2 separate regions of the Homo sapiens genome follow, and region 2 is linked to region 1. The links come from fine-mapping of genetic effects on gene expression. A gene starts in region 1. The other region holds a variant in brackets. All regions are shown on one strand. Distances are between the middles of the regions. Region 1 holds the start of CDKAL1 (CDKAL1 threonylcarbamoyladenosine tRNA methylthiotransferase). Region 2 holds the start of LOC107986578 (a long non-coding RNA gene).

Evidence for each region. PIP is the estimated chance that this variant, and not a neighbour inherited with it, causes the effect.
Region 2: its variant is fine-mapped to the expression of CDKAL1 in CD4 T cells (CEDAR, PIP 0.95). The same link has a PIP of 0.9 or more in B cells and monocytes.

The regions. Positions count from the first base shown.
Region 1 is chr6:20,532,179-20,537,557 of GRCh38, forward strand. It overlaps CDKAL1 (CDKAL1 threonylcarbamoyladenosine tRNA methylthiotransferase), which reads left to right and starts at 2,279. Exons shown (of 16, transcript NM_017774.3): 1 at 2,279-2,396; 2 at 3,173-3,216. RefSeq lists enhancers at 2,208-2,367, 2,398-2,477.
Region 2 is chr6:21,229,936-21,235,314 of GRCh38, forward strand. CDKAL1 (CDKAL1 threonylcarbamoyladenosine tRNA methylthiotransferase) reads left to right here. Exons shown (of 16, transcript NM_017774.3): 16 at 913-2,469. The coding sequence ends at 1,104. LOC107986578 (a long non-coding RNA gene) reads right to left here and starts at 1,124. Exons shown (of 2, transcript XR_001744021.2): 1 at 756-1,124. RefSeq lists an enhancer at 286-1,485. The variant T/C (reference allele first, on the strand shown) is at 3,179.

The sequences.
Region 1 (5,379 bases):
AGGGTTTCCAGTCTTTTGCTATTGTAAGCAATGCTTAAAAAAATACTCTGGAACATAGGTCATTGTAAGCAATGCTTCAAAAAATACTCTGGAACATAGGTCATTGTAAGCAATGCTTCAAAAAATACTCTGGAACATAGGTCATTATGTATATTTCTGTAAGATAAATTCCTAGAGGTAGGGTTACTGACTTCAAAGGATTTAGACTAAAGGTGCTTAAAGAGAGAGGTTTCACCTGTTAGTTAGTTTTTGTAGCCAAAACTTGAAAACATCCTTTCTTCCTCTTTTTTCGTACCTATCAATCACCAAGTCTTGCTGCTGTTACCTCCTCAATTTGTTTAAATCTGTCCTTCCTTCCCATTCCTCCCAGCCAACAACTCAATTTAGGCTTTTACTATTTCTTCATGTCTGAAATATCGTCCTCAAACCCATTGTCCTGAGAGAATAATCTGCTCGAACACATTCATGTTGCCTACTACATACATCCAGGATTAAGTCTAATGCCTTTGAATACACAAGGTTCACCTTGATCTAGTCCCTGTGCTTCCCTTTCTCTGGTAGACTTCTCCCATCACCAGCTTCACTCTCTTTGCTTTTACACTGTGGAATAATTCATCATTTCAGGCCTCCTTGCTTTTGCTCTGGCTGACTCTCCAGCTTGGAATGCCTTCATCCATTTCCCTTACTTCACCTTTGTGTTCCTGTGCATTCATCTTTCATAGTGATTGCTATTCTCTACTGAAATGAATTTTTTCAAAATAGCCTGCAATTGCAATAGGCAGTACTTTTTTTCTTTCTTTTTAGCTCTAGCATCTATCACAGTGCTTGTGGTCATGGGGTACATACTCAGTAAAATATCTTTTACTGAACTCAACTAGATCTTGGGGGAAAAGGGGTGGAGTCATTCATTCATTCATTCATTCATTCAACATATGTTTATTGAGAAGCTATAAACATAGGCACAAGGTTATGTGCTAGGTAGTGCGATTACAACCAAGAAGATAACCCAGGGCCTACTTTTGGTCTAGTGAAAGAGATGGAATTAGATGGGTATGGTGGTGTGCACCTGTAGTCCCAGCTACTTGGGAGGCTAAGGCATGAGAATCTCTTGAGGCTAGGAGGGAGAGGTTGCAGTGAGCTGTGATGGTAACACTGTACTCCAGCCTGGGTGACAGAAGAAGACCCTATCTAAAAAAAAAAAAAAAAAAAAAAAAAAAGTAGGGCAACATAAATACACAATTTTAATTTAGGTGGGTAAAGACAACAGTGGACCCCAGGGCACAGTTTAGATTATTTTATGGATATGGATAAACAGAGAAAAGGGTGGTTTTTTTTTTTTTTTTTAAATCTATTTTAGAGACTGGGTCTCACTGTGTTGCCCAGGCTGTTTTCAAACTTCTGAGCTCAAGTGATCCTCCCACATCAGCCTCTTGAGTAGATGGATGGCATTTTAATTAGATGAAATTGTACTAGGAAAGGCATTTGCAAAACAAAGTAATTGCCCCAAATCACTATGAAACCCTAAGTCAGGCATAAAACTCACGATTTCTGACCCTTCTTCATGGCCTATTGCCTCCTATTACCTTTACTTTTTCAAGTAAAGATATTCTTCTGGTAAACACATGGTCAAATACAGTGTCTTGGGTAACGAATAGTAAAGTGAGATAACATATGTAGAGAAAGCGGGTGAGAATCCGTACTCCATAAAAGTATTTTCTTTCCATAGGTGTCTGCTAAACTGCCATCTAAGTTTTCCAAAACAAAAAACAAAAACACTTGTGTGGTGCTCAATGATGTATATTAAGTGAAACCTACCAACTGACCTTTATCCTTTCCTTCCTGTTTTTTTAATATTAAAGAAGAGACCTCTTTTCACAAATGATTGAGGAGGCTAGTAAAATGCAGTGAAAAGAGCAAGTTCTTTGGGAGTCAGACAGCATCGGATCCAGCCCAGAGCGCAGCACGACTAGTAGAGTAACTTAGATTAAGTCCTTAAACTTCCAGTGTCCTCTTTTGTAAACTGGGAATAATAATAATAATAAATAAATAGTGAATAATATTTATGCAAAGTACTTAGCACAGTGTCTAACACATAAAAGCTTAGGAGAAGTTGGCTATTAAGCATTTCTAGGAACCCGAGGACTCAGGGTTGTTATTTTAGTTCTTGGAATCAAAGGAACTTGAAGCGTAGTCATTCCTAAACTAAGTTAAACCAGAACTAGCGCTTTCAGCAATGATGTAATTTGATCTCTTCGGGCCACCGTCGCTGAGCATGCGCAAATAAACGTGGCGGGACGTATGTGTCATGGCGCTCTCCATCTAAAGTCTGTGCAGCTTCCGGAGAGTGGCGGGTTGATTTTCTCACTTTGGACTGGTTTTTACTTCCCGACTTCTGGGTAAGGGTGGCCGATGGGTCCATGTGGGGCAGAGTGTGGCCACAGCTCCTTTTATGGCCAAGCCTTGTTTCTCCAGTTTCAGTTTTTCTTGGGCTGTTTGCAAATTTGTTTCGCAGTTAAAAGGGGATTTGCCAGCTGGGATGGGGGAATTGGGAGGCAGATGGGGCTTCCAGGAGCGAGGATAGGGTCGTTGGCCTCAGGTGCCGCTCTCCAGTTAGGAGTATTTTAGGCACCTCGTTCCTTATTGTCAGGTTTAACTTCATTTGTTCTCCCACTTTATACCTTAGTGAATTTGTAGATGTGACAAGGCTTTCGCAGTTATATAGCTTTCCCAGATCAGTATGTTAAGAATTTAAGCAGAAGTTATTGAGAAAAGCAGGTGTCTTGCTTTTTCACTTTTCGTTCTTCTTTGCTCATAAAACCTTTTTCTGAATCTCGGGACGACAGTTATCTTTCGGATGGAACGTGATCTGGATGTCTATCTACCTTATTGACTTAATCCTGTTTTGTAGTGGTTGGTTACTCGCACTATGCAGACGTGTTGCGGTGCTGAATACAACATTTATTACTAAAGCCAGACACTGGATCACCGTCACGGCAGATGTCAGCACACCTGTTGTAATCAGTAAGAAGTTACAAGTAGTATGGAGCATCATTAATCCTGCTGTATAAAGCAGTCTTTTATGGAGTCTGATTCCTTTTAAGTAAAGAATCCTTACAGTGGTTTTGTGAACTTTTTGGGTGCTTACTTTTCCTAATCAATTTTTATTTTCCAGACTCATCTTTCAAGAGGACTTTAGACTAATTGCAGATAATTAAGGTACTGATTTATTTTAAACCTTTTATGTTTGAGTGCTGTGCGTATTTCTGCATGTTAGAAAATGCAGAGAGGTAGCCTAATGTTTTAGCTATTTGCCACTATCATGTTATGGAAACATTGTGCTTTACATAGCATTAAATCGAAGAGATATTTTCATTTATTTTACTTAACCTTTCATTTTCATTCACCAGCATTGACCATGTCCACTTTTTTGAGATGCCCTTTTCATTTGCCTTCCATGGCCCATGGATTTTTTTCCTTGTCTGGTGGCTGCTTCTTGGAATCCATTATAAGCTGATTTTCCTTTATCTGGCAGTTAAATTTGGAGTCTCTCAAGTCGTGGTCTTGTACCTTCTCCTACCTCTGTTCTCTTTTTCTTCCCCTCTGGGTGATGTAATCCACATGCCTGTCAACAGTTATTTGTCTTTTTGATTCTACCCATCCTAATGGGTATGAAGTGGTGTATTATTGTGGTTTGGATTTCCATTTCCCTGATGGCTCATGATGTTGACATCTTTTCATGTGCTTATCAGCCATTTGTATGTGTGTGTTTTTGAGACACGGCTTCCCTATGCCACCCAGGCCAGAGTGCAGTGGCTCGATTACGGCTCACTGCAGCCTTGACCACCTGGTCTCAAGTGATCCCACTTCAGCCTCCCAAGTAGCTGGGACTACAGGTGCATGCCACCATGCCCGGCTAAATTTTACTTTTTTTTTTTTTTTTGTAGCGATAGGGTCCGTGTTGCCTAGGCTCTGGCCTTGTACTCCTGGCCTGAAGTGATCCTGCCACCTTGGCTTCCCAGTGTTGGGATTATAGGCATGAGCCTCTGCACCTGGCCCATTTCTGTATCTTCTTCATCTAATCTGTTTTTCCTTTTGTTGCTTGTGCTTTTCATTTCTTAGCTAAGAAAGAAGGGCCTACTCTAACATCATAAAGATTTGTGCTTATGTTTTTTTCTAAGAGTTTCATAATGTTAGCTCCTAAATTTAGGTCTATGATCCATTTTCGGTTAATTTTTGTATATGATGTGAAATGTGAAATAGGGCTCCAACTTTATTTTTTACATGTTGCTATCCAGTTATCCCAGTGTCATTTGTTGAAAAAAAAACTACGCTTTCCCCCTTGAATTGTCTAGGTTATGTATATTTGACATACATTCTAGGTGGTTTTTATGAAAGAATAATTCTGGGACAGTGATTATCAAACTTTAATTCAGATCAAAATCACCTAGAGGGCCTGTTAAATATTGCTAGGTTTTACTCAAAATATCTGATTTAGTATGTCTGGAGTGGAGTTCAAGAATTTTCATTTCTGGCTGGGCATGGTGGCTCATGCCTGTAATCCCATACTTTAGGGGCCAAGATGGGAGGAGTTTGAGACCAGCCTGGACAACAAAGCGAGACCTTGTTTTTACAAAAAAACTGAAAAAGAAAAAATGTTCATTTCTAACAAGTTCCCCATGATGCTACTCCAGCTGATGTGGAAACTACACTTTGAAAACCACTGGACATTGCTTTGCAACTGTGGCTGTACACACATGAGAATGACTGGAAAGTTTTTAAAAGATATTGATGCCCAGGCTCCATTCTCAGAGATTCATTCAGCTATCTTGGGGCTTAGTTGGGAATTTTCTTTTTTTTCTTTTGTTTTTGTTTTTGTTTTGAGACAGAGTCTCGCTCTGTCGCCCAGGCTGGAGTGCAGTGGCGTGATCTCGGCTCACTGCAAGCTTAGTTGGGAATTTTCAAAAGCTCTTCAGGTGAATAGAATGAGTGTTGAAGATTGAGAACCATTACTGTGGAATCGTGGTTCTTAATTAGGGATCTATAGTGGAATTACCTGGACAGTTTCTATGTTCACATACTTCAGTTCTACTCTTGGAGATTCTAATTCAGAATGGAACCTGGAGATTTGATATGATGAAAAGCTTCCCGCTGGGTGCAGTGGCTCACGCCTGTAATCCCAGCACTTTGGGAGGCCAAGGCAGGTGGATCACCTGAGGTTGGGAGTTCAAGACCAGCCTGACCAACATGGTGAAACCCCGTCTCTACTAAAAATACAAAATTAGCTGGGCGTGGTGGCAGGTGCCTGTAATCCCAGCTACTCGGGAGGCTGAGGCAGGAGAATTGCTTGAACCCAGGAGGCACAGGTTGCAGTGAGCCGAG
Region 2 (5,379 bases), 700 kb after region 1:
CCAGCTTCTCAGCTCTGCCCAAGCAGGGTTTCCCAACCTGTTCTCTATCTGGCATGAAGAGAAAATGATGATAGTATTTGTATGGCACACAAGGTACTTTGAGGGGACTGAGTGTGGGGTTATGTGGGGTGGGTCACTCTTGGCGCAGCCCTCCTGTGGCAGCAGACCAGCTGGGAATCTTTGTCCTAGGGATGTGTTTGCTGAATCATGGCTTCCATGGTTGTTGGTTGGTTTGTTTGTTTTTGAGACAGGGTCTCACTCTGTTGCCCAGGCTGGAGTGCAGCAGCGCAATCTTGGCTCACTGTAGCCTTCACCTTCCAGGTTCCAGCAATTCTCCTGCCTCAGCCTCCAGAGTAGCTGGGACTACCGGCACCTGCCACCACACCCAGCTAATTTTTATATTTTTAGTGGAGACGGGGTTTCACCATGTTGGCCAGGCTGGTCTCAAACCTCTGACCTCAAGTGATCAGCCCGCCTTGGCCTCCCAAAGTGCTGGGATTACAGGCGTGAGCCACCACACCTGGCCCATGGTGTTTCTTTGTCATTCTTCCATTGCTGAGAAGATATGGTTGCATCTCTCTAAGAGTTAAATATGTCTGTGGTATGACTCCACTTTACACAGATTCTACCCTTCATGAATTCTGCCTTGATTTTCTATAAACACGGCCCGTCTTTCTCATACAGTTTATGTGTAGTCTGGAGTCATGAACTTGGCCTGGCCCTTCAAGGAAAGGAACTGACTCATTCATACCTACCTTGGGGCCACCTGGCCCATGGTGGGTGTTCAAACGTGTCTCTGTTGAAGGAGTACATAAAAGGCGGCACCTTCTGGAACCCATTGCTTGATTGATATCACAACAGGGCTTTCTCTGCATCTAAAAATAATTTTTTCCTCTGTTTCTCTCTTTATAGGACTTCAGAAATGGGCTTGGGAACCAGCTGAGTTCAGGATCCCACACCTCTGCTGCATCTCAGTGTGACTCAGCGAGTTCCAGAATGGTGCTGCCCATGCCAAGGCTACATCAAGACTGTGCGCTGAGGATGTCCGTGGGCTTGGCTCTGCTGGGTCTTCTTTTTGCTTTTTTTGTCAAGGTCTATAATTAGAATACAACTAATGGAAACATCTATAAAGAAGAATACATTTCTAATTAAAATCTTCAATGAACAGGAAAGCGACATCTCCATTCTCCAAGGGCAATAATTTGTACTGGTCATGCTGCCTCCTTCTCAGCCACTCTTCTTAATGAGGCTCCCCCTGTCTCACATTGAGTTGGGCCCATTGGTTATTTGACCTAAAACCTAATCACCGCTACCATAGCACATCCTTCAAATTAAACTGCTTTTGGTTTACTTTTAGCAAGAAATGCAAGCGGTTGCATTTTTTTCTGTTTGTTTCAATCTCTAATCTTTAAGTCAGAACCTAATTGTACAGTGGCTCTGGCCATCTTTTCCTCATGTGGAAGAATTTTCTATCTTTAATAAACTTTTTCTTTGTTTTTTTTTTCCAGATGGAGTTTCGCTCTTGTCCCCCAGGCTGGAGTGGTGCAGTGGCACGATCTCAGGTCACTGCAACCTCTGCCTCCTGGGTTCAAACGATTCTCCTGCCTCAGCCTCCCAAGTAGCTGGGATTACAGGCATGCGCCACCAAGCCCAGACAATTTTTTTGTGTTTTCAGTAGAGACGGAGTTTCACCATGTTGGCCAGGCTAGTCTCGAACTCCTGACCTCAAGTGATCCGCCCGCCTCGGCCTCCCAAAGTGCTAGGATTACAGGCGTGAGCCACTGCGCCCGGCCTCTTTAATAAATATTTTTAAGTGCATCTTCCCCTTCAGGCTTTGTTTGGAGTCCCAGTGCTACAAACATTGTATTTTTCACAGCAGATGTGTTCCTGAAAAGTGTATAGAAACCTGTTCTGGGAACCTGAATGCTTTTGGAATGCACGGGGAGAGTCTGCCAGCTAAAGGACTCCTGGCAACATTCTGTGAAATATGAAACTGGAAAACTGGATTTGTCGAAAACTAATTGTGCCCATTTTCTCACATTTTTGATCCATTGGGGTTTTTTTTTTGTTTTTGTTTTTTTTTTTTTTTGAGTCAAGGTCTCACTCTGTCACCCTGGCTGGAGTGCAATGGCACTATCTTGGCTCACTGCAGCCTTGACCTCCTGGACTCAAGCAGTCCTCCTACCTCAGCCTCCCTAATAGCCAGGGGCTACAGGCATATACCACCATGCCCAACTAATTTTTTAATTTTTTGTAGAGATGAGTGTCACTATGTTGCCCAGGCTTGCCTGGAACTCCTAGCCTCAAGCAGTCTTCTTGCCTCAGCCTCCCAAAGTGCTGGGATTACAGGCGTGAGCCACTCCACCCAGCCCAGATTAAATGTTTTTATTTCTACCTGCCATCATTGGTCTTTACTAAGTGAAGTGACTTCTTTCTTTAACAATAAATAGAATTGGTATACTAAGCAAATCCTATGTTTTTGAGAATTTATTTGGATTGCATAGGTACAGGAAAACCAGGTACCGTGTAGTTACCATAGGATATTTTCCATCTCGAAACCCATACCCCTCTTCAGCTCTTACATTTAACTCAAAATGTTTGTGTTTTGTGTGTCTTTTAAGGAACCCAAATTAAAATTCAGTCATGTCCTAGTTGGTAAATTATAAAATATATATGCTTTTAGTGTTAGTACATTTCTCCTGGAACTGGTATGTGCTTCTAAGAGGTGCTCACATTTAGAATGCAAAAATCCTCCTGTGCTGCTTCTAGTCCTGCAGTGAAACATCCACTTGGGAGCACCCCTCACTTCTTAGCAGGAATGAGAAGAGGACAAGAACCTACCATGTGCCTCCCTTCTTGAGCTCTACGCAGTCATTTCTTTGTTAATAAACAGTGGGTTCCAGTGTGGTGCTCATTTAACAAAAACCTAGCAGAGATAAAAATGCCATCCAAAGCCTAGAGTTGCACTAGATCAGACATAGAGAAAGCTTTACACCTGTAACTGATTGGAGACAAAAAGGATTTTTTCTACCTCCCTTTTCTCTTTCCCTACTCTTTTCCTCACTCCCTCATCTGTTTATTTCCTCCCTTCTAGCTCTATGCTGTCCTCGCCTTTTTTCATTTTTTTCTTCCTGTAAGAGAATGATACACCCAGTCATCCAAATTCCCCCCCTGCTGC[T/C]CTCACCTACCATGGCAGGGATCCTCAAGGATCGTTTCAGCTGTACAGGATTCTCCCTACTTCCTGCTGTGACTGTTATTTACCCTCAATTTGGCTGCAGCTTCACTCTGCCGTTTGACCCAGAAAGGGACCGAGGTCACTGCCCGCAGCAGACGCTGGACCTTCATGAAATCAGTCTCCATACTGGCGACCAATTGGTGAGAGGGGTAGCAGTGTTCTGGAAATCCAGGGTTTTTCTTCCCCCTGTGACCTCCATCTCTAGGGAGGGGGAGGGAGAGAGCAGAGAAGGATGCAGTGCAAGTTAAAAACAGTTTTCTTAAGCCCTGGACTCTGAATGGGGCTGAGTCTGGGAACCACGGGAGCAAGTGTGATCATGAGTAGAGCTGTTACTTTTCCAGCCTGTCTCCTTCCTGCCCACAGTGCAACTGCGCTTCTCCCGCCCCGCTGAAGTTAGGCACGAAATGTGAAATGTGAGCGGAAGGGTCACGTCCTTCTTCGGGGCAGACATGTTCAGAGCTGGTGTACGGTTTACTGTGTGCTCTTCCCACTGCTGTGGTGATCCTGGACCCATATGTCAGAATGACGCCTCCCCGACCCTGGGTCCCTGAGTTAGTACAGTTGAGTAGGGCTCCTGGCCAGCATGTGCTACATAGGCATCAGGAACCAGAAATATATTGTGGTTGTGTTAAGCCACCGGCATCTGGGGGTCGTAGCCGTAGCATTCGTAACCTGATTTATACGAAGTGTCAGCCGTGATAGGATGCTTGACCCGCAGATTGTAAATGTAATTGTTATGTTTTCTTTGTATGCTTTTGTATGCTTTGCATTAGTATCAAGGGGTGTGTGTGTGTGTGTGTGTGTGTGTGTGTGTGTGTGTACTTCTCTGCTGAGAAGGAAACCTATGAAGTGATCTTTTCAATGCTTTGGCCAATTTTTTTCTTAAACTCTTTACTAGAATAAAACATACATATGAAATGGACATAAATCATAGGGATACAGGGATTTTTAAAAACTGAGCAAGCATTGTAGCCAGCACCAGGAGGCTCCCCATGTACCCTCCTAGCCATTAAGTCTGCCCCGCAAGGAGTAACCAGTATCCTTATTTCTAACATTACAGATTGATTTGCCTGATTCTAAACTTTCTATAAGTGGAATCATGTAGTATGCACTATTTCATGTCTACCTTCTTTTGTTCTACAGTGATTGTGAGACACATCCAGATTATTGTGTGAGCAGTAATTACTTCACGTTCATTGCTGAATAGTATTTCAGTGTATGAGTACACCACATTGTTCATTCTACATTTGAGTTCTTTCCAATTTTTTGTCTATTATGAATAATGCTGCTATAAACACGTTTTGTTAAGTGTTTATGTGATGATGTGAGGAGTACATGTCTAGGGGTGGAATTGCTGGGTCATAGCATTTGCATATGTTCAGCTTAGATACTGCTAAATGGTTTTCTGAAGTGGTTGTACCAATTTACATCCCCACCAGCAGTTGACATGAATTCTGTCATTCTCCCACTATTTTTTCTCTTTGGACCTTAGATATTCTTCAGCAGACCTTGTCTCTGCTGTCTCCCTTCCACAAGTCATTCCTATTTTAATAGTAATGATAATATTGACAACCATTAACTGTCTAGTCCTTAAATGAAATGCACTGGATGTTATACTTTGCACTTAACAGGTGTTAATCAGTCCTGAAGAAAAAATTTTGAGATACGTATTGTGATTCCCATCATACTGAGAAGAAAATCTAAAACTCAAAAGACTAAGTAACTTGTGCAAGAGGCACAGAGCTCTTAAGTTTAGAGGCAGGACTGGTACACAGCCTGACTCCAAAGCATATACTCCTCTTCTGTAAACTCCTCCTGCTCCTCTGTCCCATCTTTGACTTAAACTTGACCTGTGCCAACAGATACACATTTAGGATCAATCCTGTGGATGCCTGAGCTTGGGGGCCTTCAGCCTTTCAGTCTGTGTTGTCCTGCTCCAAGAATGTGCATGGTACTTGATATACTTTTTAAATAAAGATTTACTAATCAAGCTTTTTTCTTTGCCCTGCCCCCTCCTTCCTTCCTTCTTTCTTTCCCTCCTTTCTATTGTCCCTGCTTCATCTTATCATCCCTGCTTCCTTTCTTATCATCCCAGCATGAGATAGTCAGTTTGAGAATGTAAAGAATTCTTGGGTTAAAACTTT